Regions from separate parts of the Homo sapiens genome. Here region 1 is linked to region 2. Evidence: fine-mapped expression QTL. Tissue or cell type: blood mononuclear cells. Region 2 holds a variant in brackets; the other region holds the start of a gene. All regions are shown on one strand. Distances are between the middles of the regions.

Region 1 (2,500 bases), 86 kb before region 2:
TTTAACCAAGTTTAATTTATAGGCTTTCGTGGACTTCTGGAAGTCAACTGACTTCGAAGTTAGGACAGCATGGGGGGATTGGGGGAGTAGCTATGACAATGAGGAGTTTTAAGAGTGAGAAAACACAATGTCTATGAGAACATGGACTTCTCTTTTAGAGGCTCCATGAGCTACTCAGAGAGGAGGTTATGAGGGTTGGTTAAGGTACGAGAGGCACAAAGTGAAAGAAGCCTCCACTACTTCAAACCACATCAGGGCTTTTGGCAAGAGCTACATGAAAAATAGGCTCACAGGCAGCCTGGCGAGGCGGGTCTGGGCTTGCAGGCTGGCGCTAAGGACCGGCAGTTGGGAGACTCTCAGGGACCCGATGGAGGGCCTTGGGCACCACCAGTTTACCGCATGGGTTGGAGAGACAAAAAAAGAGGAGAGCGACAAAAGGGGGAAAATAGGTCCGATGATCAGAGGAGGAAGACGAAGGCTGGCTGGTCATTAGATGCGTCTTGTTTGCCGCCAAAGGGCAGGGGTTACGAGCTGTGCAGCCAGACTGGGTGTTGCAACCCGAGCGCTCCCTCCGCCCGGGGCGTCCATCCTCGCCGGGGGCGAAGCTCTCCACACGCTCTTTGCCCCTTCCTGCGCCTCCTGGCTGCTAGTCAGTCCTGTTAGGGCACTTCTGGAAACCTGCTGTCGACTCGCTGCCTTGGTCCGACTTTGATCGCGGCCTTGATAACTTGGCGCAGCGCCCCGTCTCCTTTCCTCCGGTCCCTCTCCCGCCCACCCGGCCTCACCGGCCACTTCGCCTCAAGCGCTGGAGTCGACCAGAACTCTGCGGCTCGGCTGCCGGCAAGACCCGGATAGCGGATTTCGCTCCTGGCTGCGGGGCGCGCACTCGCCCGCCCGCCCGCTCGCTCGTTCCTCGCGCGGGCACTGGGCATGCGCGGCGCGCGGTTGGCACTGGCTGCGAGCGGGCGGGCGGCTCCAGACTTCACAGGCAGCAGCTAGCGAGGCGGTCTCGCCCGGCGCGAGGCCGGCGCTGTGCTCGCCTCGGAGATCGCTGCTCTTTAGCTGGGTGCAGAAGGCGGCTCCGCGGCTCGCGGACGACTGGCTGGGCGCGAATCAGATTGGGGGGCTTTCTCCCGGTCCCCTCCCACCTCGTCTGGGCTCGCGGCGTCTCCGGGGAAAGCCGTGGCCCCGAGGGCGGATCCGAGGTAAGAGCCCCTTGGCGAAAGGCGCCGGTCCCGGGGTCCGGCGGCTTTGACTTTCTCGATTTTAAAAATCCGCCTTTGTGTGCTGGAATCGGAGCGGTGCCAGGAGCCGCGTCCGCCTCCCTTCACTTTGACTGCTTTCAACTGGTGTTGGCAGCCAGGTGCGGTAGGGCGCTGCGGCCGGAGGCGTCCGCTCGCCGGGTCCGGGCAAGCTGTGGGGCCCGTGCAGACCCGCGCCCAGGGCTCCGGGAGGCTGGGCAGGGAGGGTTCGCCGTGGCCCAGTGATATTCATGGTAACCTGAGCTTCCGCAGATACACCTGCGCTCATCTGGTCCGTGGGGCGACTGCAGACCGAGTATCCCGATCTCGGCTTATTACGTTAGACTTGGGATTTGTGCGCTGCTCTGCCAACCCGCCTCAAATGGGGAGGGGTTCTTTTCAAAATGACCCTTTAGGGCAGGGTCCCACCCCCGTTTACCCCCTCGAATTAACATAGCTAATTGTTTCGGAATCGTTGTCAATGCCTAATGGCTGTTGACTTTCTTAGCTTGCTCCACTTTACTCACCATTTTACTTTTGGGAAGACAGACGGCCTTTCTCCGGTTGTGGTCAGTTCATGCATTTGAAAGGGGTTTCCCCACCCATGTACTCCCTGCCCTCTCCGATGTTCTCACTCTTACTTTCCTTCCTAGGACTACCTGTTTGCAAAATCTTTGCACCGACCGTTCTCCGGCAGTGTTTCTCAAATCCTCCTCCTCCCATAGGGCCCGTAGTACTGTTGGAATCTCGCGGGGGGCAGGACGCCGTGGTTAGGATTTGAAATCCGCAGACATCTAGAGCGGTGAAGGATTAGGAATTAGAATCCTCCTTTACAAAATATGTTTCAGTGAAATGTGTTACTGCTTCTCTTTTCAAGGTTTCTTGCCTTAGATAGTAAGGGGAATAGGTAAAAGAGCTAATATGTTAGGATGAGTTCAGGTAAAACTTGATTTCAGATGTGTGAAGAGTGTGACTTTTTGGCTTTGTCATTTTTGGGAAATAGGAGAGTTAGGATTCCGGGCAATCTTCTTTATATTGAAAAAGCCCCTCAAAGTAACTGTGTTGTGTATTGCCTCTAGTTTATTTTCATTGAAAGGACTCCATTCTTCCACAGCTCCTTGGGTTCTGGAAAGTGAGCACTAGTAATGGACGTCATGTGGTAGTGAGTCTATTGGAATTAAAGTCAATGTCATCCTGTCTCACCTAGTATAGATTTTTTGTTTGGGATCGCAGTTTTCTAAACATATTGCTGTAGTTCT
Region 2 (2,852 bases):
GTATATGTATGTGTGTGTGTATATACACACAGGATTTTAAGGACAGTTTTTTGTGTGTGTGTGTGCATGCGCACGCATGCCAAGGAAATTGTTAATCTTCTAGTACATCCCCATAACAGAGGCAGCTACAATAAGATCTAGTCTTTGCCTTACAGACCAGGTGGCTTTACCTGATAGGCTCACAGACATTCAGTAGTTCATTTGTTCCTCAGATTTCTCTAATTATTGTGATAAAGTTGATATTAAATTTACCAACTTAACCATCTTTAAATGTATAGTTTATTGTCATTAAGTGTATTCACATTGTTGTGCAGCCATCATGACCATCCATCTCTAGGAGTTTTTCATCTTCCTGAATGGAATCTCTGTGCCCCAAAACAATAACTACCCATTCTCCACCTTCCACAGCCCCTGGCAGCCACCATTATGCTTTCTGTGTCTTTGAATTTGACTATTCCAAGTTCTTCATTTAAGGAGAATCATAGAGTATTTGTCCTTTTGTGACTGGCTTATTTTACTTAGTGTAATGGCTTCAGGGTTCATCCATGTTGTAGTATGTATGAGAGATGTCTGTTTCCTTTTAAAGGATAAATAATTCCCTTATGTAGATGTATGATATTTTACTTATTCATCTGTGAATGGACAACACTTGGGTTGCATCTACCTTTTGGCTCTCGTGAATAATGTTGATATGAGCATGGGTGTACAAATATCTAGTCTCTACTTTCAGTTCTTTTGGGTATACACCCAGAAGAAGAACTGCTGGATCATATAGTAATTCTATGCTTGATTTTTTTGAGGAGCTGCCATACTGTTTTCCACAATGACTACACCATTAAAGGGATATTTTAAATGAACGAACAAAAAAACCCAGCAGGAAAACCCTCTATTCTTACAGTCTTTGGAATTTTACAATGAACTTTCTAAAATAGGATGAAGATAGCTTCATTGGATTTCTTGTGTAACTAATAATTCTAGGAAGTGTGGTCTCTGTCCTTAGAGGTAAGTGGTGGGCAGATTTAAAATTAATATATCGGTTTCTCTTTGGATAATTACGGAGTTTGGAGACATTAGGGGAATAACAAAGGTGAGTCTAAGTTTTTCCAAAAAAAAAAAAAAAAAAAAAAACAAATACATAGAGCAGAATACAGGTGGGAAGATTCCTATAGAAATGAAAGAGACAGATACAATTATCTCAAATAATCAACTTTGCTTCCTGAAAGTGTCAACTTCGTTCTCTGATCTAGTCTGCCTTCCAGAATGCCTGCATAGTTATTTTCTTAAACATTAGTAATATGATTGTTACTCCTTACCATCTCCTAAAAGATTAAGTCCAAATTCCTTTATATGCTCTACAAGGCCCCTCACAATCTGGCATCAAGCTTTTCTTCATCAC[A/C]TCTTCTTTTCATATATTCTGTATTGCAGCCACACTGAATATCTCACTATTCCCTGAAATTCATGTCCTTCCATATCCTTTGTATATGTCTGGAATGTTCTCTAATTACCTGTACCTGTACCAACTGGTGCACTCCTCACTGTCTTTCAAGACCTGATGTTACTGTCTCTTCCTATATGAAACCTACAAGCAGCTTCCATAGGTAGACACTTTCCTAGTACATTGTTCATACAGTAATAACATTTACTAAAATGCATTGTAATTATCTGTTTGTATATCTATCCATCTTGCTGAACTGAATGTTCCCAGAGGAGAGAAAGTATGTTTATTATATGTCATCATGCAAAGCACAATACCTTGTAGGCATAAATGTCCAAAAAATACCAAATGAACTTATTTTTCTTTATTTATTTTTATTTTTATTTATTTTTTGAGACGGAGTCTCGCTCCATCACCAGGCTGGAGTGCAGTGGCGTGATCTTGGCTCACTGCAACTTCCACCTCTTGGGTTCAAGCGATTCTTGTGGCTCAGCCTCCCGAGTAGCTGGGACTACAGGCACACGCCACTGCACCCAGCTAATTTTTGTATTTTTAGTGGAGATGGGGTTTCACTATGTTGGCCAGGATGGTCTCAATCTCCTGACCTTGTGATCCACCCACCTCGGCCTCCCAAAGTGCTGGGATTAAAGGCCTGAGCCACCGCGCCCAGCCTCGAATGAACTTATTATGTGGTTTTGCTCACTCTATTGAATGTTTACCTTTAATAACCATTACGTGCATAAGCTAGAATTCCTTTCATAATTTCACTATTATTAATATACTGGATATATATGTATTGGATATAGGTAAAATATTAAGCATGCAATTTTTTTCTTCATATTTATATATTGTATTGGATATGTGTTTTGGATATAGGTAAAAATATTAGGCATGCAATTTTTTTCTTCATATTTAATATACTGGATATATGTTTTAGAGATAGGTAAAAACATTAAGCATGCATTTTTTTTCTTCAGTAGTTTGCTGCTGCTCTATGAAGATTTCCAGACACTGATCTCATAGACATTCATACATTACCCCAGAGTCCTCTTATCCTAGGAGAAAGTATCTCATAATCCACACTTAAATGTTAATGACATAATACATTATTACTCCCAGAAGTGTTTGTAGTTTAAAAGTGCTTCCTATGGATGAAAATGCTTAACTCAAAAGAATGAATTAATTTCCAGTGCTAGAATTTTATTCACCTTGTCGCCTGTGTAAACGATAGATTTTAAGGAAATAGGATGATACTCTCTCAACCCTAAAATCACACTGGACAGGCAGGCTTCCAAGAGCACCTCTGAATCTTTAGCATCTCCAGAGTGGTGTTAACAGGGGGAATATATTCTGTTTCCTTAGGCTGCTGCTCTAAGCACTTTGCCCTTTTGGAATAAATTTGTTCTTCTTATACTGC

The links. PIP is the estimated chance that this variant, and not a neighbour inherited with it, causes the effect.
Region 1: it holds the start of EPS8, and the variant in region 2 is fine-mapped to the expression of EPS8 in blood mononuclear cells (TOPMed, PIP above 0.99). The same link has a PIP of 0.9 or more in monocytes and whole blood.

The regions. Positions count from the first base shown.
Region 1 is chr12:15,787,866-15,790,365 of GRCh38, reverse strand. EPS8 (EGFR pathway substrate 8, signaling adaptor) reads left to right here and starts at 978. Exons shown (of 21, transcript NM_004447.6): 1 at 978-1,205. RefSeq lists silencers at 771-1,120, 1,381-1,500, 1,831-1,910.
Region 2 is chr12:15,702,124-15,704,975 of GRCh38, reverse strand. The region is part of intron 1 of EPS8 (EGFR pathway substrate 8, signaling adaptor); the gene reads left to right. Among named protein-coding and RNA genes, the nearest start is that of EPS8, 86 kb to the left of the region's middle. The variant A/C (reference allele first, on the strand shown) is at 1,397.